4 separate regions of the Homo sapiens genome follow, and regions 2, 3 and 4 are each reported to be linked to region 1. The links are microRNA targets in miRTarBase. Many come from high-throughput screens and were not tested one by one. Region 1 holds a microRNA gene; each other region holds the end of a gene's coding sequence.
What was found. Region 1 holds the annotated microRNA hsa-miR-652-5p (CAACCCUAGGAGAGGGUGCCAUUCA, at 4,687-4,711, opposite strand). A microRNA usually pairs through its seed, bases 2 to 8, with sites in the 3' UTR of a target mRNA and lowers its output. Matches are read on the target gene's strand: a 7mer-m8 pairs with bases 2 to 8, a 7mer-A1 pairs with bases 2 to 7 and ends in A, and an 8mer does both.

Region 1 (7,121 bases):
AGCTCCTGGCTTCAAGTGATCCTCCCACCTCAGCCTCCCAAAGCACTAAGATTACTAGTGTGAGCCACTGCACCCAGCCCAACCTTTTCAATACATCTGAAATCCACCCTCACTATCTTTTCCTAGTTTGGTCCCTATCATTTTCTTAAACTACTACAGCAGTTTCCTATCTGATCTCCAAGTATCCAGTGTTTTTCCTTCATCACTCTAATTCACGGGTGTCCAATCTTTTGGCTTCCCTGAGCCACACTGGAAGAAGAATTGTCTCGGTCTACACATAAAATACACTAACACTAATGATAGCTGATGATCTTTTTAAAATAATTGCAAAAAAATCTCATAATGTTTTAAGAAAATTTATGAATTTGTGTTGGGCTGCATTCAAAGCTGTCTTGGGCTACATGCAGTCCACAGGCTGGACAAGCTTGCTCTAATTTTATATAGTATTGTCAGGTTCCTATTCTTAAAATAGCATTCTGATCCTGTTACACTCCTCCTTGAAAGTTTTAAATGACAGATTCATCACAGTACGTATCAGAATCCCAGCTGACATTTTTTTTTGTAGAAACTGACACGCTGATTTTAAAATTCATATGGAAATGCAAGGGACCCCAAACAGCCAAACCAACCTTGAAAAGAAAAAGTGGGAGGACTTACACAGCCTGATTTCAACTTATGGCAAAGCAACAGTAACAAAGACAGTGTGGTACTAACCTAAGGAAAGACACAGAGACCAACAGAATAGAATTGAGAGTACTGAAATAAATCCTCAGAAGTGATTTTTGACTAAGGTATCAAGACCATCCAATGGTAGAAAGAACAGTCTCTTCAACAAATGATGCTGGGACAACTGGTTATCCACAGGCAAAAGAATTAAGTTGGACCCCTACCTCATAACCCATATACAAAAATTCACTCAAAATCAAAGACCTAACTGTAAGAGCAAAAACTATAAAACTTGTAAAAGAAAGCATAGGGATACATGTCATGACCTAGGATTTGGTAACAGACTCTAAGATGTAACCAAAAGCACAAGCAACAAAAGAAAAAATAAATATACTGTACTTCACCAAAATTAAAATATTTCATGCTTCAAATGACACTATTAAGAAAGTGAAAAGACATCCCAGACTGAGCATGGTGGCTCACACCTGTAATCCCAGCACTTTGGGAGGCCGAGGCAGGCAGATCACTTGAGGTCAGGAGTTTGAGACCAGCCTGGCCCACACAGCAAAACTCTGTCTCTACTAAAAATTAAAAAAAAAAAAAATTAGCCAGGCGTTGTGGCACATCACATGCCTGTAATCCCAGCTACTTGGGATTACTTCTCCTGCTGAGGCAGGAGAAGTGCTTGAACCAGGGAGGCAGAGGTTGCAGTGAGCTGAGATCACACCACTGCACACTCCAGCCTGGGCATCAGAGTGAGACTCTGTCTCAAAAAAAAAAAAAAGAAAGAAAGGGGAGGGGAGGGGAGGGGACCCAAAGAATGGGAGAAAAAATCTGCAAATCATGTATCTAATAGGAGTCTAGTATTCAGAATAAATAGCTCTTAAGACTCAACAATAAAAAAGAAAATTAACAGATGGACAACTCAATGAAATCAGGAAAACAATGTATGATCAAAATGAAAAGTTAAATAAAAAGATAGAAACTGTAAACAACAGCCAAACAAATTCTGGAGCTGAGGAATACAATGACTCAACTAAAAACAGGAGATTTATCAAGCAGAAGAAAGAACCAGCAAATTTGAAGAACAGTTATTTAAAATTACCTCATCAGAAGAGAAAAAGAAAAAAAAGGATGAAAAGGAATAAAGAACCTTAGAGGGTCAAAAATACACAATGGGGGAAAAGATGCTTGCTTGAACAAATGATGTTGGGGTAACTGGATATCCACACGCAAAGTAATGAAATCAGACTCTTATCTTACACCACACACAAAAACCAACTCAAAATGGGCTTAAGACTTAAATGTAACATCTGAAACCATAAAACTCCTAGAAGAAAACATAGGAAAAACTTCTTGAAATTGGTCTTGGCAATGATTTTTTGAATATGACATCAAAAGCACGTGCAAGAAAAGTAAAAAACAAACAAACAAAAACAATTAGGACTACATCAACCTAAAAAGCTATATAGCAAATATTTGCAAACCACAAATTTGATGTCAATATTTAAAATATGTAAAGAACTCATAAACTCAATAGCAGAAATACAAATAACCCAATTTTAAAATGGGCAAAGGATCTGAATAGACATTTTTCCAAAGAAGGCATACAAATGGACAACAGGTATATGAAAAGGTGCTCAACATCACTAATCATTGGGGATATGCAAATGAAAACCACAGTGAGATCTCATGTCACCCTTGTCAGAATGGCTATTATAAAAAATGCAAAAGATGGCAATATTGGGAAGGGTGTGGAGAAAACAGAACCCTGGAAAACTGCTGATGGAGATCAATAGAGCCATTATCAAAAATAGTATAGTTTCAAAAAAAAAAAAAAAAAAAGACCTATTCTATGACACAGCAATCCCACTTCTGGAATACTTATCCAACAGTTGAAATCAAGATCTCAAAGGGATATCTGCACTCCTATATTCCTTGCACCGTTATTCACAATAGCAAAGATATAGAAACAAGATAAATGTTCATCGATGGATGCATGAATAAAGAAAATGTGGTATATTATCCAGCCTTTAAAAAGAAGGATATCCTATCATTTGCAGTAACACAGAAGGACCCAAAGGACATTATGTTAAGTGAAATGAGCCAGAAAGAAAAATATCTTATGATGTCACATAAATATGAAATGTAAATTAGTCTAACTCATAGAAGCTGAGTATAAAATGATGGTTAGCTGGGGCTGGTGCTGGGAAAGTAAGATGTTAGTCAAAAAGTACAAAGTTTTAGTTTTCCAGGACAAGTAAGTCCTGGATATCTAATGTACAGCATGGCGACTATAGGTGAAAATACTGTACTGTATACTTAAAATTTGCTATAAGAATAGATCCTAAGTATTTCCAACACACACACACACGCATACACACATAAATGATAACTCTATGATGTAATGCATGTGTTATCTTGATTGTGGTGATTTCCATATATATATATAATCATTAAGTTGAAAACCTTAAATATATACATTAAAAATAGCTAAAGTATTAAAAAAACTCAACAATAAAAAGATAAATAACCTTGAACAGACATCTCTCCAAAGAAAACACACGGGTACTCAACATGCACATGAAAAGATGTTCAACATCATTAGTCATCAGGGAAATGCAAATCAAATCCACAATGAGATGACACTTCATACCCACTAGCATGGCCAAAATATAAAAGGCAAACACAAGTGTGCATGAGGATGTGGAGAAATTGGAACCCTTTTATACTGTCGGTAGGGATGTAAAATGATGCTGCCATTTTAGAGAAACAGTCTGGCAGCTCCTTGAGAGGTTAAACATAGAGTTATCATATGACTCAGCAATTCCACTCCTATACCTGGGGGAAATGAAAACCTATGTCCAAGGGAAATAAAAACCTATGTGCACCTGAAAACTTACAGATGTTCACAGAAGTATTATCTGTAATAGCCAAAAGGCAGAAACAACCCAAATGCTCACCAACAGACAAATGGATACATAAAATGTGGCATATCCTTAAAATGGAATATTAATTGGCCATAAAAATAAGTGAAGTACTGATACATGCTAAACACAGATGAATCTCGAAAACATACTAAGTGAAAGAAGCCAGTGGAAAAAGGTCACATATTATAATTACTCAATTTCTATGAAATGTCCAGAATAGATAAAATCTATAGAAACAGAAAGTAGATTAACAATTGCTTAGGGCTGGTGAGTGGGGGAAAGGTAGGGAGGGGGGTGAGCTAAATCGTATGGAGTTATTTTTTGGATGATGAAAATGTTCTAAATTTGACTGTGGTGGTGGTTGCACATATATGTGAATATACTAAAAACATTCAATTGTACACTTTAAATGAATGAATTATATGGTATATGATTATAACCCAATAAAGCTGTTTAAAAAACAAACTTTGGATAGCTCCTTATTGCTTGATAAATAAAAGTCCAAATTCCTTAATTGGGCATTCAACTCCCTCCCCTCCTGCATCATCATTTGACCCCCGACCAGCATCATTGCTCACTACTCCCTTTTACATGCTTTTCTATCCAACCAAGATGAATTATGCACCATTACCCATATATCCCTTGTGGTCTCCCATCTGTCTTTCTTCTCGCTATTCCTTCCCCCTGAGATTCTCTCCTCCTGACTCATCTTCACATGTTAATATTCTACTTCTTTCACAAAGCCCAGTTCAAATGCTCCCTCCTATGCAAACCCCTCCCTGTTCTTCAACCCTCACATAGTAGGCACTTAAAAAACTATTTACTGAAAGAACGAAGGTACGTAGTTCTCCTATATGATGGCTCTCATTTACAGAGAAGATAATTCTCCCAAAGCCACAACTTTACTTCTTTCTTCCTTTCCTGGTCACAGCAGCAGCTCACTGCTTCAGCCCCCTTACCCTGAGGACAATCCCAAACTGGTACCTTGATGAAGAAAGTACTGACATTACATTATGCCAGGGCCGCCGAGTACAGTTGTGTAGGTTGTGCACTGCACAACCCTAGTGGCGCCATTCAATTATAGTCTATGTGAATGGCACCCTCTCCTAGGGTTGTGCAGTGCATAGCCATTCGTGGCGGCCCTGCTTGGAAACATTCCTAGTGTTTGAGAACAAAGCCAAAAAGAACACTCAATGAGAGAATCACTATGTTGTCGCTGAGAAGTAGGCAACTCAAAAATCTTGTCAAGAAAAAAGAAATTCAAGAGAATAGCATGGCCATAGCACACAAACAGCATTTGCATGGAATTGAAAACAGGAACATCCAAGAGAAAAATTGTTACTGATGTTTCTCCAGCAGTGGAGAGAGAACAGGACACACATTCTGGTCACACTACAAAGCTATGACAGACATGCAAAAAGGTACAGTTTTCCATGGACTACCAAAGCCTATATGGTCTCGCTCATGAGACTTTTCAACTCCATTAGGTTCTGATTTTAGGTTATAAAACAGTCCCTGTTTAATTTGGCTTCAGGTACCTTGATATCAGAAAGGGCTGATACACACAAGTGTTCTCATCTCTATAAAGGTCTCTCTCTCATCATCAATCGACTTATCAGCCTGGTGATTTATTAAGAAGTGTTTTGTAATGTTGGGGAGTGTGACCCAATCCACTAGAAACCAACAGCCCTGGGTAAGCTGATAAAAATTAGGCTTTGAACCTACAAACCAAGTTGCAGAGTTAGGACCCGTGTCAACTCCACCAAGGCACAGACACCCTCAAGCTCAGTCAGAGCAGCTGGCCAACTAGCTGGCCAAGTCAAAACTGCAGCCAGTAATTCAGGGCACTCCAAAATGGAGAGCCATAAAGGACTGGACATATTGGTAGTGACAACAGGTGAGCTGGTGGTAGAGCTCAAGGGTGCCAGATGTTGCGTTTGTTTCTTCTTTTTGTTCCCCACTCCAGTTCAGTTCAGCCTCCCACTTTCATATTTGCTCCACCTGGAATATTTCATTCCACTTCTTCTGTCTCCTCTAGAGATTTCCTGGATAAGTCACAAAAATTAAGCATTCTTTTTCTGAACTCCATTGGTATTTGTTGGTACTTATACACTAATCACTTATTAGTCTCATACTGTTGTTAGTAACAACAATAATGGCAGTAGTTATTCCTTACTGAGTGCTTACTAGGTGCCTGGCACTACAGTCAATGTCTTACACATATTAGTTCATATATTCTTCATAGCAATCCTATTATGTAAGAGATTATTATTTTCCTCCTGTTTGCATACAAGGAAACTGAGCTACAGAAAGGTTAAATAAATTGCCTAAGGTCGCACAACTAATAAGTGAGTCAAAGAGTCAGGCCTGGAACCCAAAACTATCTGATTCCAGAGGTCATGTTTGTTGCCAATACTACCTTTTGTCTCCACCATAAGATAATTTATCTTTTCTGGAGTTCCCTCTGCCTCCACTCCACATAGTGCCTAACACACCATCGGACATATAAAAGTCCTCCAGAACACATGCGCACATCTGCCTCTGCTCCCTGTCCAGAGCCCAGCCCAGGACATAAGCTGGAAGAGAAGGGAAGACGGTGTAGTTAGCATGAAGGGGCTTGACCTTTCAGGGAGCCACAGGAGTCCTCCTCCTCTGACCCATTTAAGAGAGGATCATGCTGCTCCTTGACCTCAATCCCAGAAAAATATGTAGAACAGGATGACCTGGTTACCTTGAAACTCGTCAAGAAAACTCTGAAGTAACAGAGCCTAGGCCAACCCATGGGAGGGATGGATGGTATCCAGTTCCCTGAAGCAAGAGGACCAATTGTGTCAGAGTCAAAGCCACATGGGACAGCTAATGTTTGCAGTGCTCCACCACCAATGAACTCTATGGCCAAAGTTGGGGTTTTTATGATGGTGGGGGAGAGGTGTATTTTTTTTAAAAGAAAGTATTTTTTACACCTCCTTAAGCCTCAGTTTTCTCATTGTTTAAAACAGAAATAAGAATACCTACCATTTGCAGTGCTTCTAAGGCATAAAATGAGAATGTAATAAAAGCACCTATTTCCTGGTGCCTACATCAGTTTGTTCTTCCTGAGGTTCTGAGCACACAGTGATGCAGGACATAATTCCTGTCTGCAAGAAGCTCACAGTCTGGCTAGCAAAGGTCTTCTACGGCACCCTGTCAACCAAAATTAAAGCTGGTTGGTGAGTTAGCCTAACTCTCAGCAAGACATTTTATCAAAGGAAAATTTTGGTGGGAAAGAAGGTAAGAGCTGTTGGCAAGAGTAAAGATTGTGGGTTATATCTTTGCTTTCCTATCTTTGCTGCAAATCTCCCATCCACACCTTTGTATTAAAAAATTGGGAAAGGGGACTCCATTAATCACTGTTTTAAAAAATGATGCATGTAGGCCAGGCATGGTGGCTCACGCCTGTAATCCCAGCACTTTGGGAGGCCAAGGTGGGCAGATCATGAGGTGAAAAGATCAAGACCATCCTGGCCAACATGGTGAAACCCCGTC
Region 2 (7,121 bases), not on the chromosome of region 1:
GTCAGGCGTGGTGGCGCGCGCCTGCAATCGCAGGCACTCGGCAGGCTGAGGCAGGAGAATCAGGCAGGGAGGTTGCAGTGAGCAGAGATGGCGGCAGCACAGTCCAGCTTCGGCTCGGCATCAGAGGGAGACGGTGGAAAGAGAGGGAGAGGGAGACTGTGGGGAGAGGGAGGGGGGAGGGGGAGGGGGAGGGGAGGGGGAGGGGGGACCGTTATTATTAAAAGCAAAAAGATGGTTCTACAGAATGGGGGCAGAGAGGAGTAGGAATGGTACTCAGAGGAAACTGAGATGCCTCTTTACAGCTCTTGCCCAGTCAAAAGAAGATCACACAACTCTACATGTGCAAAACCATCAAGGGCTTAGGATTTTCAGGAGTGAAAGTTTGTGGACTCCCTACCAGGGAATGAACCCAGTCAAAGCAAGAGGTACCTGGAATGGTAGTATAGGAGGGAAGTAAGAAATGACAACTACTACTGACTTGTAACCAAGAAGCAGAAAGAACTAAAACTTCCACCTGTATTTCTTTCTTTGCAGTGATGTATGTTATTTAAATTAAATCCTTCTCTCATTTTGTGCATAGGGTATGCTTGTGGCGTTTATATTTACTGTTTGGTCTAGAAGTTTTGTGATACAAAGGTAAGGAAGAAACCAGGGGGGCCAGGCGCGGTGGCTCACGCCTGTAATCCCAGCACTTTGGGAGGCCGAGGTGGGCAGATCATGAGGTCAGGAGATCGAGACCATCCTGGCCAACCTAGTGAAACCCCATCTCTACTAAAAATACAAAAATTAGCTGGATGTGGTGGCGCGTGCCTTTAATCCCAGCTACTCGGGAGGCTAAGGCAGGAGAATTGCTTGAACCTGGGAGGTGGAGGTTGCAGTGAGCCGAGATCACTGCACTCCAGCCTGGGCGACAGAGCAAGACTTCATCTCCAAAAAAAAAAAAGATTGTATGTGGGTTTGGACAGTGTCCGAGAAGAATCTAGGTCTCATAGAGGATGTCAAGGCGTAACAATACTCTAAAAAAATGACTAGGCAAGCAAGCAGGTTGATTTACCATGATCACATAGGTGCCCAAAGTAGACAGAGATTCAATGAACCAAAACAGAATAGTTTATTGCCAACAGCAAACAGCCAGAGCACCAGCATGGCAGTACCAGTTGCTCTGTCCCCCAGCAATACAAGGGGCTTTGCATACAGCTGAGGCACCCATGGTGAAGGGCTCAGTAATTTTTACAACAAACAGTAACCAAACCTGTCTCCTCCTCCAGAGACAGAGGACAGTTAGGACTTGAAATTTGACACGCTTAGCAAGGATGTGTAGAGATGCTCAAGGCCCATGGTGGAGTACCTCTTCCAACAGAGAGCAAAGAGACTGCCATGGAAATTTGTTATTATCAGCCACCAGATAACCGTTCCCCTAATGGTCTTCTTGTAACACTCCTCAATTTCCTTTGGGGAAACCACCTAGCTTGCTGCAGCATTTGATGAAATGGTCAATTCACTACCCCTATCTGAATTCACAGAGCTGTTCTGGTGTCAGAGCATTCCAAGATCGGCTCCGCAGTTGTCCCTTTGATTTTGTGAGCCAACCCACATCCGTCCAATGAATTCCTTTTGGTTTAGATTAGAGTCAGCTTCTCTTACTGGCAACCAAAGAAGTCTAACTGACATAAAATGGCATCTGTTATGACAGAGTTCACAGTTCCACCAAGGAGACAGACATGTAAACAAATAGCCACAATTGGGTGAGAAATGCTATAAAAATGCTATAATACAAGGCACATGTAAGGCACAATAGTAGCATTGAAGAAATCCATCAATAAGGATAAGTGTCATGAGGGCAATATGTGGAGAAAGTAAGCAAATGTATCTCAGGTAGAACAAAAGTATATACAATGTCCTCAAAGTATCTTCAAACATGGCGCATTTAGGGAACCACAAGAAATTTGGCATGGTGGGAGCATAAGATTCTATGGCAGCAGTGGCCAGTGGAGAGGCTGGAGAGAGAGGCAGGGGTCTAGTCATTTCATGTCAAAGGGTCTGGTTTTATTAAGGAGGAAACTCAGTCAGATATATTTTTTTTTTTTTTGAGATGGAATCTTGCTCTGTTGCCCAGGCTAGAGCGCAGTGGAGTGATCTCGGCTCACTGCAACCTCTGCCTCCCCAGTTCAAGAGATTCTCCTGCCTCAGCCTCCTGAGTAGCTGGGACTACAGACGCGCACCACCACACCTGGCTAATTTTCACATTTTTAGTAGAGACAGGGTTTCACCATGTTGGCCAGGCTGGTCTCAAACTTCTGACTTCAAGTGATCTGCCCACCTTGGCCTTCCAAAGTGCTGGGATTACAGGTATGAGCCACCGTGCCTGGTCCTTTCTGTCAGATTTATGTGTCAAAAAGTTGCTCTGTTAGAGGTATGAAAAGGGAATGAGTTGGGAAGACATTGGAGAGGCATCAAGAGTAATTTGGATTTTGGAGTTAGACAGACTGGCTTCAAGTCCTGGCTCTGCTACTTACTACCTGTGTGACCTTAAGCAAGTTCTTGAACCTCTCTGTGGCTCCGGTTTATCATTTATAAAATGTAATAATAAGATCTACTTCTCAATGGCTTGTGGTGTGGTTTATGTGATCTTTGTAAAGTCAGCATAGTGCTTAGAAGATAGCAAATTTCTAAAGATGTTAGCTATTATGATGATGATGATGATAAAGTCTGGGAGACCAATTGGGGTTACTATTTTACTTTATTTTATTTTGAGACGGAATCTGGCTCTGTCGCCCAGGCTGGAGTGCGGTGGCGCCATCTCTGCTCACTGTAACCTCCACCTCCCAGGTTCAAGAGATTCTTCTGTCTCAGCCTCCCGAGTAGCTGGGACTACAGGTGTGCGCCACCATGCCCAGCTAATTTTTGTATTTTTAGTAGAGATGGGGTTTCACCATATTGGCCAGGCTGGTCTCAAACTTCTGACCTCGTGATCTGCCCGCCTCAGCCTCCCAAAGTGCTGGGATTACAGGCCTGAGCCACCATGCCTGGCCTGGGGTTACTATTAATACAATAGTCTAGGTGAGGGCTGATGAAGGCTTAAACCAAGACAAAGAAGTGGGGATGACAAGCCTTTCAATGTTTATAAGTATGCCATATAGATAGGATGGCCACATGATTTGTGATTCACTGAGGGACACTTCTCAGAGTGAAATGGGTATGTATTAATAATGATACCAGGACAACAGGCATGCATTTGGAAGTACAATCACCCTGCACATTAGTCTTTTCTAAGTTCAGCTTCTAGATGTCCCTCACCAGCACCAACAATGCTCAGCTTATTTGATTGTAACATACTGAAAGGAAACTTGTTTTTAATTTTACTGGAGGCAAGACAAAACCAACAAGCATCAGGCATCCTCTTAACTCAGATGTCTTTTCTGACTCAATTCAGCCAGATTTGACTGCTCAGCCCAACTGAGCATGCACAAGAGGAGGGCAACCATGTTCTTTCTTTCTGCACCACATAGGATGTGAACCACACATGCTGGAAAGCAGGGCCTCCAGCTTTCATTTGCAGACTGGGTGGCTCAGACATCAGGTCAACATTAATGGCTTCACTATGTCTCCAAAATAGGACTTGGCATCTCTCCCAGACCCTCCCTCAAGGCAGGTAACTTGTCCGTCTGTCTTGTTCTCTCCAATATACTTAGCGTCAAACGCAGTGTCTAGCACCTAGCAGGAGCCTGACAAATACTTATTAAATATTGGAGTGGGCGTGGTGGGGCTGGGCGTGGTGGCTCATGCCTGTAATCCCAGCACTTTGGGAGGCCGAGGAGGGTGGATAACCTGAGGTCAGGAGATCAAAACCAGCCTGGCCAACATGGAGAAACCCTGTGTCTGCTAAAAATACAAAAATTAGCCGGACTGGTGGTTCACACCTGTAATCCCAGCTACTTGGGAGGCTGAGGCACAAGAATCGCTTGAACCTGAGAGGTGGAGGTTGCAGTGAGCTGAGATCACACCACTGCACTCCAGCCTAGGCAACAGAACAAGACTGTCTCAAAAAAAAAAAAAAAGGAGTCATGGTATTTTCCTTGTAAGTATTCCCTATGTGTATAAAGGTTGGCCAAAGCTCCTACCCCATTCCCAATACTCAAAGATGCCATGTCTTCCAGTTCACTTTCATTAGGTTCTGGGTAAGAAACAGTCAAATTAATCAGAATTTCTGGTGATGGGCAGTCAATATCTTCCTCACCATGTTTTCATTAGCAATGAAATGTTGTATGAGCCAGGGGAGCCTTCATAGCTTTACACTAACACAGGGCAATGAAGACCTAATTTATTCTTTTTTTTTTTTTTTTTTTTTTTGAGATGGAGTCTGGCTCTGTCACCCAGGCTGGAGCACAGTGGCATGATCCCAGCTCACTGCAAGCTCTGCCTCCTGGTTCAAGCAATTCTCCTGCCTCAACCTCCTGAGTAGCTGGGACTACAGGTGTGCACCACCACATCCAGCTAATTTTTGTATTTTGGGTAGAGACAGGGCTTTGCCATGTTGGCCAGGCTGGTCTCGAAGTCCTGACCTCAAGTGATCTGCACACCTTAGCCTCCCAAAGTGCTGGGATTACAGGCAAGAGCCACCGCGCCCAGCCAAAGACTCAATTTCTTGCTTGATATAGTGGAGCAACACAAAGGAATCTTCCAGCTGGTTACCATCCTTCTCAGGATTTCTTTTATTTTGGGCTTGCAGTAGCTCAACCTCTATTTCCCCCTGCCCCTTTGAAAGTTGATTTCTCCTCAGAGGCCCTTTCCAAGCCAGCCTTGGACTGGCTTTCTTGGCTTTGCTTGGCTATTGTGTGGTTTCAACTGAGCAGACTGATATATGATTTGGATCTGTCTCCCTGCCCAAATCTCATGTTGAATTTAATCCCCAGTGTTGGAGGAGGTGCCTGGTGGGAGGTGATTGGATCATGGGGGTGGATTTCCTCCTTGCTGTTCTCATGATAGTGAGTTCTCACGAGATTTGGTTGTTTAAAAGTGCATAGCACCTCCCACTTCTTTCTTTCTCCTGCTCCAGACTCGTAGGACAGGTCTGCTTCTCTTTTGCCTTCTGCCTTGATTGTAAGTTTCCTGAGGCCTCCCCAGTCATGCTTCCTGTACAGCCTGGGGAACCATGAGCCAATTAAACCTCTTTTCTTTATAAATTACCCAGACTCGAGGCTGGGCCTGGTGGCTCACGCCTGTAATCCTAACCCTTTGAGAGGCCAATGTGACTGGATGGCCTGAGCTCAGGAGCTGGAGACCAGCCTGGGCAACGTGGTGAAACCCCATCTCTACTAAAATATAAAAACTTAGCCAGGTGTAGTGTGTGCCTGTAGTCCCAGCTACTTGGGAGGCTGAGGCTGGAGAATTGCTTGAACCCAGGAGGTGGAGGTTGCAGTGAGCCATGATCGCACCACTGTACTCCAGCCTGGAGACAGAGCAAGACTCTATCTCCAAAATAAATAAATAAATAAATAAATAAATAAATAAAATTACCCAGTCTCAGGTAGTTCTCTGTACACACAGACAGTAACTTTTCCCACCTATTTTTCCAAAAACTGCTCCTGTTCTCAGTCAGTCCTTTCCCAAACTGGAGCCTCCCTATAGCCCAACCTGCAAAAATTAGGGACTCACTTGGAAGTTTATTGGTGGAAGTAGAGAAGCACCTTGTTGGAAACACCATCTTACCTCTCCCAAGGTCACTTGGCTCACAGTGGAAAAGGAGCATTATAAGAGGTGGTAGCAAGTACACGTATGCAAGGAAGAGCATGTTTTGCCTAGGTGTCAGGCTCCCAAGAAGTGCTCTCCTAGGTAACTGGCTATATGAACTTGTAGAAGGTGCTCATTCCAGTCCTCTTGTTCCCAGAGGCTGTGGCTCAAGGCAGCTCTCATGGGTATATTCAAATTGATTGGAGATGCCACTGGAGAGGGTATCTTGTAGCTGCTGCAGTTGTCTATTTCAATGGCAGTGTCATTGTTCCTGTAGGAGCCCAGGGAATTTTGGGGTTATTGAAAGCAATAGAAGAAAAAGAAAACATTGTTAAAATTTAACTTAAAAACCACTTTCAGCTGGGTGCAGTGGCTCACACCTGTAATCCTAGCACTTTGGGAGGCCGAGGTGGGCGGATCACTTGAGGTCAGGAGTTCAAGACCAGCCTGGCCAACATGGTGAAACCCCGTCTGTACTAAAAATACAAAAATTAGCCAGGCATGTGGCACACGCCTGTAATTCCAGCTACTCGGGAGGCTGAGGCATGAGAATTGCTTGAACCCAGGAGGCGGAGCTTGCAGTGAGCAGAGATGGCACCACTTCCAGCCTACGTGACAGAGTGAGACTCCTTCTCAAAAAACAACACAAAACAAAAAAAACCAACTCACTTTCTAATCATGCCTTTTTCCAGCTCCAGTGCTTTAAGGACATGTAGAAATATGGAAATGTGGGGCAGTGACAATATGCACACATGCAATAATGTTAAGGGCAACCCGAGGAGAGAAAGCCACAGAGGAGGAGGAGGGAGCCTGGAGCTAAGGCCTGCCCTGTGGAGGAACAAACAACTCTTCAAACCTTAAGTACTGCTTTGATGTGTTGAGAATATAATGTATTATGACTCAAAGACAAAATCCCGGGGACTAAAAATTTAAGATCAGAGAAGTGAGAGTGAGCTGGGCTGCCTGAAGGGATTGCCAGCCTTGGTAACCAAGGGCTTGGGTTGTCACGTGGGGAGAGAGTCCTTTGTAAAGAGTTGCTGGCTCCTTTTCCTTAAGCTGAAAGAGAGAGCCTTCCTTGGACAACCCAGGGGGCTTGAGCTGTGGCTCTAGGACTCTGGGAGAAGAGTTGTTTCTGTGCCTAGGAAGCAAGGTCCTCCTCTCCAATGGCTGGTCAAAATATGAGAGGATGATTCCTGAGGACCAGATGTGGACTGTATGAGAGAGAGCAAGCAAGTGTACACCAGCCTGGAGCCACTGTAAGCCTTACCCAGGAGGACTCCTTAAAGGGGATAGCTAGTGCCTGGGGGAGCATGGTCCCTGCAGAGCCATGGCCAGGGGGGTTGTGGGGGGGGGTGCAGTGTGGCCAGATGAAAGGGAGGTGTTGCAGTTGA
Region 3 (7,121 bases), not on the chromosome of region 1:
TCCAGCCTGGGCGACAGAGGGAGTCTCTGTCTCAAAAAAAAAAAGCAAACAAAAAAATCTTTGATGGAATTATAATTTCTCTAGAAATCTGCATATGCCTTCTTTCCCGGTTCAGCCACAGCAAATGTATAGAGTGCTACAACCCTCTATACAGGGATACAGCAATGTGAAACCAGAGGTCATGCATCTGAGGTTTCATCAAAACACTGGAAGCCATGGTAGTTATTGTCCTTGATAGGTATGTCAACCTCAACACCAATGTCCTTCCTGGCTGATGGAGAAATGGGCTGCCCGATTCACAGACTTCTTGATCTTTCCTCAGCATATGATACTCTCATATGAAACTCTCCTCCTGGCTAGGAGTGGCAGCCTACATCGCTAATCCCAGCACCTTGGGAAGCTGAGGCAGGAGGATTACTGGAGGCCAGGAGTTTGAGACCAGGCTGGGCAATACAGCGAGACTCTCTCTCTTAAAAAAAAAAAAAAAAGAAAAAAGAAAAGAAAAGAAAAAAAAGGCCAGTGTGGTGACTCATGGCTGTAATCCCAGCACTTTGGGAGGCTGAGGCAGGTGGATCACGAGGTCAGGAGTTCGAGACCAGCCTGGCCAATATGGTGAAACCCTGTCTCTACTAAAAATACAAAAATTAGCTGGGCATGGTGGCGCACGCCTGTAGTCTCAGCTATTCAGGAGGCCTAGGCAGGAGAATTGCTTGAATCCAGGACGCAGAGGTTGCAGTGAGCCAAGATCGTGCCACTGCACTCCAGCCTGGATGACACAGTGAGACTCCGTCTCAAAAGAAAAAAAAAAAAGGAAAGAAAGAAATGGTCCTCCTGGAAATGTTCTGCAGTCCCTTGACTTCCAGGACACTCATTGCATCAACAAACAATTTAGTGTTCTAGGGACTATTCTAGGACCTCGACCACCATTTCTTGCCTGAATTGCCACAATTCAGCAATTTTTTTTTTTTTTTTTTTTTTTTTTTTTTTTTTTTTTTTTTTGAGACAGAGTCTCACTCTGTTGCCCAGGCTGGAGTGCAATGGCTCAATCTCGGGTCACTGCACCCTCTGCCTCCCGGGTTCAAGTGATTCTCCTGCGTCAGCCTCCTGAGTAGCTGGGATTACAGGCATCTGCCACCACACGGGGCTAATTTTTGTATTTTCAGAGAGATGGGGTTTCACCATGTTGGTCAGGCTGGTCTCAAACTCTTGACCTCAGGTGATCCACCTGCTTGGGTCTCCCAAAGTGCTGCTGGGATTACAGGCGTGAGCCACTACACCTGGCCTCAGCAGTCTGTTAACTGGATTCCCTGATTCTATTCTTCACTCCATCCATCCTCCCCATTACAGCGTAAGTATTCTTCCTCAAATGCAAAGCTGTTACTCAAATGCAAAGCTGTTACCCCACATTAAGTATTCTTCAAGGTTTCCCATTAGATCAAGTCTAAACCCTCTTAGTACATGAGGCCCTGCATGAAGAGTTCTGATTATCGTTTTTTGTTTTGTATTTTTTTTTTGAGATGGAGTCTCGCTCTGTCACCCAGGCTGGAGTGCAATGGCACGATCTTGGCTCACTGCAACCTCTGCCTCCTGGGTTGAAGCGATTCTTCCGCCTCAGCCTCCTGAGTAGCTAGGATTACAGGCGCATGCCACCATGCCCGGTTAATTTTTGTATTTTTGTAGAGACTGGGTTTCACCATGTTGGTTAGGCTGGTCTTGAATTCCTGACCTCCGGTGATCTGCCCGCCTCGGCCTCCCAAAGTGCTGGGATTACAGGAGTGTGCCACCGTGCCCGGCCTCTGCATGAAGAGTTAAGCAAAAACGTGGGGAGGTCCTGGGCTGGGTCAGCACTTCCTACCATACTCAAAGCCCAGGGCTCGGAGTACAAAGGGCCCCTACGTGTTTCCTACTCAGTAGAAAAAGCTGCAGTCCAAATGCTCTTCTTGAAGATTCACAAAGCATATAAATAGCTGAGAAATACCACCAGAAAGAAAACCCATTTTACTTTCCCCTTTTTATATGGAGAAACATATTTGAGTCAGGGAAGGCTTTCCTCTAAACATCAGTCCTACGGAGAAACTGGGAAAATCCTGATATTTGGCTTATCACTTTGAACGCAAAATCCACTTTGCTGTAATGGTCATCCGAACTCCCTTCAGAGAGCAAGCAAGCAAAATTAAGTGTGATACTGGAGCTTATGCATGCAAAAGCTTGCAAAAAGTATTAAGGAAAAATTACTGCAGTTTACCAAAAATATGAGGGTGGTCAACATTTTCTGATAGAATGGTAAACTGTTTTTTTCTTTTTTTTTTTTTTTGAGACAAAGTCTCTCTCTGCCGCCCAGGCTGGAGTGCAGTGGCGCGATCTCGGCTCACTGCCACCTCCGCCTCCCAGGTCCAAGCGATTCTCCTGCCTCAGCCTCCTGAGTAGCTGGGACTATAGATGTGCACCCACACCCAGCTAATTTTTGTGTTTTTAGTAGAGACGGGGTTTCACCATGTTGGCCAGGCTGGTCTTGAACTCCTGACCTTGTGATCTGCCTGCTTCAGCCTCCCAAAGTGCTGGGATTACAGGCGTGAGCCACCGCACCTGGCCTAAACTGTTTTTCTTATAAAATGGGCTATGGACACATATTCTGCTTTATCACAGGGAGACTTTGTAACATCATTTGGGATGTAAAACCTCTAATGAAAACTGGAAACTAAGGCTTTATACAGGCCTAGGTATAGGGAGCCAACGACCTGAAGGCCTAAGCCAGGGCTAGGACCCACAGTTTGGGAGGCAGAGAAATCAAAACCCCTCCTGGGTGAGCCCACTCAGACAGCAGCCAGAACCCACCTGTGTGAGCCCCCTTTCACCCTTACGCTGTGAACAGGGACTCTCATTCCTTCAGGATGTTTGATGAAGGAGTGGTGGCGGTGATAATCTCTGTTGAGAGCTGGACCCAAGACTTTATGTATTTATTTATTTTGAGACTGAGTCTCGCACTATCGCCCAGGCTGGAGTACAGTCGTGCAATCTCAGCTCACTGCAACCTCCGCCTCCTGGGTTCAAGTGATTCTCCTGCCTCAGCCTCCCAAGTAGATGGGATTACAGGTGGCCGCCACAACGCCTAATTTTTGTATTTTTAGTAGAGATGGGGTTTCACCATGTTGGCCAGGCTGGTCTCGAACTCCTGACAAGTGATTTGCCTGCCTCGGCTTCCCAAAGTGCTAGGATTAAAGGTGTGAGCCAACGTGCCCAGCCAACCCAAGACTTCTTTTACTTTTGCTGTATAACATTCAAGGGAGCTAAAAGGAAAATGAGATTTCACACCCACATACTCTCTTAGAATAGTGTCTACTGACTAGTTCCTCTGGAACCAGTGTGAAATGTCTGGAGAAACAGGACAGAACAAAGCAATGAGATAAAAAAAAATTTCCCACATTGACTCAGATGCAGACGGAGGAACAACGACTTAGCTTTGGATTTTGTGTCTACATCAAGAGGAGCTTCTAAAGTGCTTGGGAAAGACCCCAAGAGGGATGGCTGAGGCTCAGGGAGGGCAAACTGTTAAGGACAGTGCTACCCACCATGGGAACCACTGACTGGAGAGGCGGTCACAAGCACACATTGTCCCAGCTCATCTTCTGGTACCTGCCTGTGCTGCAGTCCCGACTCCAGCTGCCTGACCTTGAACAAAGTACAAACTGTCAGTCTCCATCCCGTTTTGAATGGGGGTATTAAGAAGACTCAGGCTGAATTGCTTGAACCCAGGAGGCAGAGACGCAGTGAGCCGAGATCACACCACTGCACTCCAGCCTGGGCAACAGAGTGAAACTCTGATTCAAGAAAAAAAAAAAAAAACTCAGGCCAGGTGCAGTGGCTCATGCCTATAATCTCAGCACTTTGGGAGGCTGAGGTGGGAGGATCTTGAGGCCAGGAGTTCGAGACCAGCCTGGGCAACTTGGCAAGATGCTATCTCTCCAAAAAAATAGCCGGGTGTGGTGGCGCATGCCTGTGGTCCCAGCTACTAGGGAGGCTGAGATGGGAGTATTGTTTGAGCCCAGGAGGTTGAAGCTTGCAGTTAGCTGTCTTCATACCACTGCACTCCAGCCTGGGTGACAGTGACCCTGTGTCAAAAAAAAAAAAAAAAAAAAAAAAAAAAAACCTGCACCAAGGTGTGGTGGCATCTTAGCACTCTGGGAGGCCGAGGTGGGAGGATTTCTTAAGGCCAGGAGTTTGACAGCAACCCGGGCAACATAGCAAGACCCTATCTCTACAAAAAATTTAAAAATTAGCCAGGTGTGATGGTGCACACCTATCGTCCCAGCTACTCAGGGGGCTGAGGTGGGAGGGTGGCTTGAGACCAAGAGTTTGGGTCTGCAGTGAGCTGTGATTGCACCACTGCACCCCAGCCTTACAAAAAAACAAAACAAAAAAAGACGTGCACCCGGAAAGTTGTGACAACACTGTGTTTTTACATCAGATGATGTCAGTGAAGAGCATTCAACTTGGTGTTGGGGGCTAGAGGAAAGCTCAAGGTGGCAGGGAAAGTGAAGGAGTGGGGCATTTGGGTGGAGCAGGGCTAAATGGAAAGAAGGGACAAAGCAATAAAAATAAGTGGTGAGCAAAGGGGAATAAACAGGCTGAGAACAGAAGTGGCAGCTCAATACTGGAGGCACAGGCACTATTACCGTGCTAACATTTGATATCAAAGGAAGACAAAATCTAAATGTAAAGTCAGGAGTGTGTAACTGTCACACACACTCCTTTTTAACACCCCTGGGGCTTGAACAAGAACGGGGAGAGGTAGCAGATACATTCATGATGTCTTACTCAGTAGAATTATTCCAGATTTTCTCCCCTTTAAAGAGACCACTATCAGCTCCCCTTTAAAGAGACCATTATCTTTCTCCCCTTTAAGAGATCATTATCAGCTTTCTTCATCCTTCTTCTTAGGCTGAGACAGGTGAGAAGGCAGCCATGAAAATAAATGTCCAAAGGACTATGATGGACAGTGCTCTGGAAAGGGACTCATCAGGTAGAAAATGAATACATCCTGGCTGGGTGTGGTGGCTCACGCCTGTAATCCCAGCACTTTGGGAGGCCGAGGCGGGCGGATCACCTAAAGTCAGGAGTTCAAGACCAGCCTAGCCAATGTGGTGAAACCCCTTCTCTTTTAAAAATACAAAAAAATTAGCCGGGTTTGGTGGCAGGAGCCTGTATAGTCCCAGCTACTCGGGAGGCTGAGCCAGGAGGATCACTCGAACCCTAGAGGTGGAGGTTGCAGTGAGCCGAGATTGTACCAGTGCACCCCAACCTAGGTGACAGAGCGAGACTATCTCAAAAAAAAAAAAAAAAAAAAAAAAAAAAAAAGAAACAGAAAAGAATCCAGGGGCTCACTCCTGTCATCTCAGTACTTTGGGAGGCCGAGGTGGGAGGACTGCTTCAGCCCAAGAGTTCAAGACCAGCCTGGGCAACATGGTGAAACGCTGTCTATATAAAAAAATACAAAATCACCTAATCGTTAAAAAAAAAAAAAAAAAAAAAAAAAGCCAGGTGTGTGGTGGTGCACGCCTATAGTCTCAGCTACTCAAGAGGCTGAGGTGGGAGGATCACTTCAGCCCCAGAGGTGGAGGCTACAGTGAGCCAGGATCATACCACTACACTCTAGCCTGGGGACAGAGTGAGACCCTATCTCAAAAGAAAAGAAAAAAAGAACATAAATACATCCAGAAGTATTATTGCTCTTCCTGGGACATCAGGGCCACCAGTGCTGCCTGTACGTCTTCTGCCTGGGATGGGGGCAGCCGACAGTCCTGAATGAGGGCCACAGCAGCTGCCTCTGTCAGGCTGCTGAAGTCCTGGGATGTTTTGACAGGGAGGTGCCCAGCCAGCTCACAGAGGGCAACATTGAAAGCTTCACCGTCCTTTATCCCAAAGCTGGACTTCCGGGCCCACAGAATTACTCGGACCCCTGTGAGGGCTGAGGAAGGTGATGTCTTTCCCGGCGGAGCTCCCCGGGTGACAAACAAGTTATGAGCAATCTCATGGTCAGTCAGATAATCAGTGGCCCGACATACCCTGCTTATCAAGGACTCCAAGTCAGGCCCTGGCCCACGAGTGTAAAAGAGGAAGCCAGGAGCTGGGAGGTCCTGGAGCAGATGCAAATGGCCTCCAGGGTCCAGGGGCTCGCTTGGCGCCTGCTCCACGGGCAGTCTGTGGGCCAGGTAATAGCCATGCAGGTGGAGGTGGTTCACCGAGGCCAAGCCTCCCAGGCTGTTGAAGCCGACACGGAAGCCCGGGTGTAAGCTCAGCAGCACAGCCTCAATCCCTGCCCTCAGTGCACCCGGCAGCAGGCGCTGGGGGAGCTGGCGGGCAGGCTCAGGCACCAGCAGCACGTGGCCCCACTCCAGGGGGCTGACGTTGATCACCACCAGGATGTCTTCTTGCAGCAGAGTCCCAGGGAGATCAGGCTCCCGGTGCAAACGGAAGAGGACTTCTCCGGGCCGGATCTTGTTGAAGTTGAACTGTACAGGGTCAAATGCCTGCCTCACACTCTTGATGGTCTGCGGGGGCCTCCTCTGCACACCACGCTCCACATTCAGCTGAGCCACGAAACCCACAGCACCAGGGAGGATTTGGGTCTGTAGCTCCCGTAGACGGTAGCGAAACAGCCCCAGCTCCACCCGCTGCTTCCAGGCAGAGCAGAGTGCAGCATCAAAGGGAGATTGTGGCAGAGCATCTGGGATGCCAGGTGCATTCCTTGGCCACTGAATCCCTTCTGCCATGAGATCCTTCTGCCCATAAACAAAGTCAGGAATGGTTTGCCTGCCCCAGTCCTCATTGTTGGGAGGCAGCAAATAGGAAGTTTCGTTTGAATCATGTGGAAGAGCCATAGAGCTGACCTGAAATAGTCATAAAAGATGAAAACACATGATGGTAACCCACCTCCAGAGATTGTCATTGTATTTATTTATTTATTTTTTTTTTTGAGATGGAGTCTCACTCTGTCACCCAGGCTGGAGTGCAGTGGCAGTGATCTTGGTTCACTGTAACCTCCGCCTCCTGGGTTCAAGCGGTTCTCCCGCCTCAGCCTCCTGGGCAGCTGGGGTTACAGGCAGGCACCACCATGCCCGGGT
Region 4 (7,121 bases), not on the chromosome of region 1:
CTTCCTGATGGCCACAAATCCCTGATGTCAGGCCCAGGGAGTTGCCGCTCTCCTCTTCTGCCATCCTGGCGGTGGCTCCCATGGCACCAGGGCAAAGGTACAAGAGACGTGGTGGTTACTTCTATACCATCTGAATCCACCTGGGTAGCAGGGATGGTCAGGGCTTTTCAGCAGGAACCAGTCTATACACAGTATGACTATTCTCTACTTGAACAAAAAATAGGATTTAAAGTTTAAGTGGTCACTGCAAAGGATAATAATTATTTCAATATATTTAGTATCGGCCAGTATGATGGTTAATATTGAGTATCAACTTGATTGGATTGAAGCATGCAAAGTATTGTTCCTGCATGTGTCTGTGAGGGTGATGCCGAAGGAGGTTAATATTTGAGTCAGTGGACTGGGAGAGGCAGGCCCACACTCAATCTGGGTGGGCACCATCTAATCAGCTGCCAGTGCAGCTAGGATAAAAGCAGGGAGAGGAACATGGAAGGACTAGACTGGCTGTGTCTTCTGGCCTCCATCTTTCTCTCGTGCTGGATGCTTCCTGCCCTCAAACATCAGACTCCAAGTTCTTCAGCTTTTGGACTCTTGGACCTATACCTTTGATTTGCCAGAGGCTCTTGGCTTCCCTACTTTTGAGGTTTTGGGACTCGGACTGGCTTCCTTGCTCCTCAGCTTGCAGACAGTCTATTGTGGGGCGTTACCTTGTGATCATGTGACTCAATTCTCCTAATAAACTCCCTTTCATATATCCATCTATCCTATTAGTCTTGTCCCTCTAGAGAACCTGGACTAATACAGCTGGCATTTTATTTTAATTTTTTTTGAGACAGGGTCTCACTCTTATCCAGGCTGCGGTGCAGTGGTGTGATCATGGCTCACTGCAACCTCGACCTCCCAGGCAATCCTCCCACCTCAGCCTCCCAAGTAGCTGGAACTACAGGCATGCACCACCATGCCCAGCTAATTCTTAAATTTTTTTGTAGAGATGGCGGGGGTTCACTATGTTGCCCAGGCTGGTTTTGAACTCCTCGGCTTAAGCGATCCTCCCGCCTCAGACTCCCCAAATGTTGGGATTACAGGTGTGAGCCACTGCACCTGGCCAATTTTCTTAAAAACACTTAAGCTGAAAAGAACTTTATATCATAGAATTAGGTTGTAAGCCTCTTAGGTGCAGGGGCCATGCCTTTAGTTTTGTTTGTATCATTTCTCTGGTCACTATACCTCCTCCCCAGCACCTGATACATGGGTATGAATCCTTCTTCAGGAAAACCTGTGCAGCAAAACCTCAATTTAGGAAACCGAAGTCAATGTATTTAGATTTTGGAAATACAAAAGCAAAAATTTGCATTTACAAAAAGATTTACAAAAAGGTTTCTTCAAATAGTGAATTCCTCTGCATCATTTAAAATGTTTTATTCACAAATGTTTATGTTTACAAGCCCATTTTGGTTATTTTCTTGACATAAATCATTTTACACTTGAACAAAGATTGGCTATTGAAAAAATGGAAGAGATGAAAACCAAGTAAGCCTTTTACAATTAAGATTGAATGAATGTAAACATTACTTCCAGTTATTTAAAAATTATATTAAAGGCTGGGTATGGTGGCTCACACCTATAATCCCAGCACTTTGGGAGGCTGAGGTGGGAGGATTTCTTGAGTGCAGGAGTTTGAGACCAGCCTGGGTGATAGAGCAAGACCCCTGTCTCAAAAAAAAAAAAAAAAAAAAGAGGCAAGAAAAAAATTATGTTAAACAAGATACTCTTTTTAAAGCAGCTAGTACAATGCCTGGCATATAGTAAGCACTCAAAAAAATTAGCAGCTTTTATTAGAATACTTTCAGAAAATGAGATTTAGGAAATGAGTTTAGAAAATCTCAGGCTATTTTTTTTAGCACAGTATTATTTCACATCCTCCCATTGGATTTCAGTCATTTGAGAGCCAATCAACCAACATTTATAGAATATCTGTGTGCCAGGCATTGTTCTGGACACTAGGGATATGAGACTTTAGCAATTATCTAATTCAACTCATCACTTTACCAGGAAAAAAACCGAGGCACAGAGAGGATGAAGTGATTTGTTCATGGTTAGTCTACTGCTAAATAGCAAAGTTGAATGCTTTTTCTACCATCTCTTTTCAAACAGCAGCATTTGATAAATGCATGTGGACTTGACAATCTATTCCCCAGGAGGCTAAACGAGACCATTTTCCTCTGATGTGGTGTGAAATAAGTCCACAAATCTGACACTCCCTTTGAAAAGTAAGATTTTCCTCCCCTAGAATATGGGCTGGCCTTAGTGACTCATTTCTAACAAATAGAAAAATGGTATAAGTGACAGTGTACACCTCTAGAGACTAGGTCATGAAAGGCCCTGTGGCTCCCTGTTTATTTGCTCTGGAGGAAGTTAACTGCCATGTGTGAGGACATCCAAGCAGCCTGTGGAGATGCCCACATGGCAAGGAGCTGAGGCCTCCAGCCAAGAGCCTTGTGAGTGAGTCAGCTTAAAAGTGGAGCCTGCAGCCCCACTCAAGTCTTCAGATGACCACAGGCCTGCTTGACAACAATCTCACGAGAGACCCTGAGCCAGAACCACTGGGCTAAACCACTCCCAGTGTCCTTACCCTCATAGAATGTGTGAAGTTATGAATGTTTATTGTTTTAAGCTGCTAAGTTTTGGGGTAATTTGTTACGCAGCAATAGAGAGCTAATACTCTCTTTTACTGTCACTTTGTTTTCACTCCTACCCTTCCTTGACCTCCCTCTAATACCTTATTTTATAGTTTATATTCTTAGGGCAATGATTGACACTTTTTTTAGTTCTAAAATTTTTACTATATTTATTTATTTAACAGCTTTACTGAGATATAATTTATGTACTATAAAGTTGGTTGACACATTTAAAAATTGTAATAAAACATAAAACTTAACATTTTAACCACTTTAAAACATACAATTCAGTGGCAGTAATTGCATTTATGATGTTGTATAACCATGACCACTATCTAGTTCCAGAACTTTCTCCTCACCCCAAATGGAAGCCCCATACATATGGCTGACACATTTTAAAAGATTAATTTTATTTTGTCCCCCAAATCTGGGGGGACAAAAGTAACAAAGAAAAATGAGCTCACAATTAAATAAGCAAAACCTTCTGTAAAGGTAAAAAAATTTGCCGGGCACAGTGGCTCACACCTGTAATCCCAGTGCTTTGGGAAGCTGAAGTGGGTGGATCACTTGAGGTCAGGAGTTTGAGACCAGCCTGGCCAACATGGTGAAACCCTATCTCTACGAAAAATACAAAACATAGCCAGGCGTGGTGGTGTATGCCTGTAATCCAGCTACTTGGGAGGCTGAGGCAGGAGAATAGCTTGAACCTGGGAGTTAGAGGCTGCAGTGAGCCGAGATCACACCACTGCACTCCAGCCTGGGTGACAGAGCGAGACTCCATCTCAAAAAAAAAAAAAAAAAAAATTGGAAAGAAATAACATTATTTCTAACAACAATATATCAATCTTTTCACATTCTTATATAGAATCAGAGAATCTAATGAAATACATTCTATTATGGATAAACCAAAATCTCAAGTACTTGTTTTACAAAAAATTAAGTCTTCAAAACTCTTTTGAAGTCCACTGGGTGCAGAACATCCCCCACTGTGCCTGAAAACCAAGGAACTAGAACTGGAGACAGCTGTTGGGAGGACAGCAGCGATAACAGATAGGTGCCCTGTAGCGATGGCCTCCAACGGCTACCTACACCCAGCCCTGGGATTCGGAGGATGCAGAAGGAACATCTGGGCTCAGCTATTTCATGCTGTCGGCCATACACTTCCAAGTGGGAGGTGATGGCAGTTTGGTCAGCTGTTTGCCAACCCAGGAGTTGGGTAAAGGTTGGTAAGAGATGTTATTAGTTTTAGCACCATTTCCTTCCAATAGTCTCATTTTAATACAATACAGGTTAGTAGTGACCAGAAAATATTGCTACTGAATTGAAGGATGACTATACAAGGACTTATATCAGATTATTTGTTGCTTTTAGTTTCTAGTGTCCCATAAAGTATAGAAATGGAAATTGCTGACAAGAGAGTACCTTTGGTAGGCACAGTTCCTTTTCTCCCCCCACTGGAGAGGACGCTACAACCTTGCTATAGAGTGTCCTGTGACTGCCCAGTGATGTAGATTATGCTCCTACCCCAGGAGGGGCAGCTTGAGAACAGAAAAGCAACAGCTGGAAGACATTTATATTACCTCTGTATTCAGCTCATTGGACTAGCATCTTTCATGGTGTGAGACTTTCTCATTTACTCATTTGTCCATTTATTCATTTGTTTTAAAAAATGAGGCCAGGCATGGTGACTCATGCCTGTAATCCCAGCACTTTTGGAGCCCAAGCTGGGATAATTGCTGGAGCCCAGGAGTTTAAGACCAGCTGGGCAACATAGGGAACCTTGTCTTTTCAAAAAATAAAATTAGCTGGGTGTGGCGGTATATGCCTGTAGTTCCAGCTATTTGGGTGCCTGAGGTGGGAGAATCACTTGAGCCCAGGAGTTTGAGGCTACGGTGAGTTGTGATTGTACCACTGTACTCCAACCTGGTGACAGAGTGAGATCGTCTCATAAAGATATAAAAAATTAAAAATAAAATAAAAATTAAAAAATGAGTGCCTTCAGGCAGTGTTCCAAGCATTGGTGAACACAATGGTGGGGCTAATGCAGAAAAGAGTATCATTTTTGCACACATTTCTCTGGGTTTGACACTCTCTGGAGCTAATATGGACTGTTCCACATTAGTAAGACATTAGTGGGATTGAGAAAGGGCTGCAGGTGTCAAACTGCATCCTCTTTGCCAGACCCCAGAACCTCAAAACAAGCAGTAAAACAGAGAATAAGAGGACTGTGGGTGTGCCCTCCTCTGCTTTACCAAGGCCCAGTATCCCAGACACTGGCCACTTGCTTTTTCATATCCTTTCCTGAGGTTTCTTCTCACTGCTAGTAAATAGCAGTGCAAGTCTTAATATATTATGAAATAAAGCTACAATCACAATGACTAACTCCATGCAATATAGGAAAAGCCTCGCTGAACAGATGCCACAGAGCCAAGCATCTCCCACCCAGCCCTCTTAGTGTCTACCATGAACATCCTCACAGAGCAACTCCACCGCCTATTACGGGGAGGCCTCTAGCTTCAGCCCTAGGGGCAAAAGTAAGGCAGGGCTCAGCAGCGTTCCAGAAATCAGGGGTGCTCAGGTAGAGAAGCAAAGTGGCCTTCCCAGGGATAGGACTACTGAGGTCAAAAGGAAAGGCAGGAAAAGCCACAGAAGAATTGGAAGTGGCAGGAAGTCTAGACAGAGTGAGCAATGGCTGGGGGGAAATAAATTACGATAAAAACACATTTCTTTATTTTAAAAGCCACAGTCATGGTGCAGGCATTTTGCTGTTGACCTGAACAACAAAATGGGCCTTATGCTCTGTGATGAGATAAGTGAGTAAGGGGTGAACCAAGAGGGGTGGTTCACTTGGAGTGCCTGAACATGATCCTTCACCGACAGGGAGAAGCCTTGGCCAACAGAACCATTAATCACTGTCTGCTCCCTTCATTTGCGTAAGAAATGTGATTCACTCCAATAAAACTGGCTATTGGCAGAGGGGAATCGAACGTCTGACTTGTGAGTCTAAAAGAGCCAGCTGTTCCAGCCTCCAGGATTCAGTGAGAACTTCCTATTTCAAGTTAAGTTCCCAGCTGTCCCAAGGCTTAGGAAAGGGGGATAAACCCAGCCACCCCCACCTCTAGACACATGCTCCAGCCAACAGCAGGAGTGTTGCAGATTTTATCAGCTTCTTAAATGCATTAGGGGTTGAAATTAGACACCTCGGTGTGGTTTAAGAGCAAGAGAAGGGCCAAGTGAACCCAGGTTGGGATAACAAATGAGACAAGAGTCGTGAGAAAAGGCCTGAGGTCCAACTTCCAATTGAAAGGTTTTCTAGCCTCCCTGAAATCCTACATCCAAGGGCCCCACACCCCAGTGGCCTTGGGATCACAGCGGGGGTCCTGTGCAGGGAAGTACACGGGGACTGAGTGTTTATGGTAGAACTGTAGGCGGGACAGGAGCTTTGTGACGATGTGAGGATATTCTCTGGACAGGTCATGTCTTTCTTCAGGGTCCCGATCAATATCAAAGAGCCAGAGGGTCTTGGTTGGTGGGTCTGATGAGGGTATCTCAGAAACATTGTATTGAGACGGTGGAGGGAACCAGTAACCACAGCCTAGCAAAGAAAACAAAACAGTTTACTGAGGGAGAAGCACAGAGGCAGGTTCTAATTTCAGGGAAGGAGTCTGAGGCCAAGGCTGCACTGGGTTGTGGGTGTGGAAACATAAAAAGATGCGGCCCTAGATGCTGTCTCTAGATGCTTCTCAGACTTGACTTCTGGTGCTTTAACTAGACATGTCTCACTGCTTCACAAGCAAGGACACCCAGAAACGTGTGTGCATGTGTGTATGTCCTTGTCACAAGGACTAGGGCATAGGGGTGCTCCTGGCATTTAGTGGGCATGAGCTAGTGATGCTAAAGTCTTGCAATACATGGGACAATCCCAGTCAAAAAAGACTTGTCATATTGCAAACGCCAAAAATGTTCTCATTGTAAACATTGATTAATTACATCACAGCCTTAACCATCATCCCACATATTTTAAAAGTATTGAAAAGATATCACTCTTAGAGAATATAATCAGAGGAGCAACCTCCTTCCCCAGCTATACCACTGGTTGAGGGTGTAGCTCTCAGAGACTCTCTTTGTTAGCTAAATGTGCTGTGCTTGATAGCCACATATATTTAAAATCCGTATTTTCCATGAAGCATAAGAGTGACATTTCTTCCTTTCACCCCTGCTACAGTTAATTCTCTCTGTCTTTCTCTCTCTCTCTCTTTTTTTTTTTTTTTTTTTTTTTTTGGTTAGGACGAGTAGGTTAAACCATTTCTTCCTATCTCCTCATTCAGCAGCCCCAGAGATATGTTTTGCAAAAGGCATTTGTTACTTCGGTAAGCTTCTCCTTGATGATCCACTGGGAAAGCTTACTTGCACCATGACAATGATGGAAGCTGTGTAATTGGG

Region 2: miRTarBase lists GARIN1A as a target of hsa-miR-652-5p. Seed matches in the 3' UTR shown: 7mer-A1 at 5,229-5,235.
Region 3: miRTarBase lists GDPGP1 as a target of hsa-miR-652-5p. Seed matches in the 3' UTR shown: 7mer-m8 at 5,247-5,253.
Region 4: miRTarBase lists ARSB as a target of hsa-miR-652-5p. Seed matches in the 3' UTR shown: 7mer-m8 at 3,287-3,293.

What each region holds. Positions count from the first base shown.
Region 1 is chrX:110,052,939-110,060,059 of GRCh38, reverse strand. MIR652 (microRNA 652) reads right to left here and starts at 4,731; the gene lies at 4,634-4,731. The region is part of intron 2 of TMEM164 (transmembrane protein 164); the gene reads right to left.
Region 2 is chr7:128,681,844-128,688,964 of GRCh38, reverse strand. It overlaps GARIN1A (golgi associated RAB2 interactor 1A), which reads right to left. Exons shown (of 5, transcript NM_001128926.4): 5 at 1,088-6,001. The coding sequence ends at 5,806. Among named protein-coding and RNA genes, the nearest start is that of GARIN1A, 13 kb to the right of the region's middle.
Region 3 is chr15:90,240,666-90,247,786 of GRCh38, reverse strand. It overlaps GDPGP1 (GDP-D-glucose phosphorylase 1), which reads right to left. Exons shown (of 4, transcript NM_001013657.3): 4 at 1,976-6,887. The coding sequence starts at 6,878. The coding sequence ends at 5,721. It also overlaps a transcript of CIB1 not described here. Among named protein-coding and RNA genes, the nearest start is that of TTLL13, 5.3 kb to the left of the region's middle.
Region 4 is chr5:78,774,390-78,781,510 of GRCh38, forward strand. ARSB (arylsulfatase B) reads right to left here. Exons shown (of 8, transcript NM_000046.5): 8 at 2,820-6,273. The coding sequence ends at 6,008. Among named protein-coding and RNA genes, the nearest start is that of LHFPL2, 130 kb to the left of the region's middle.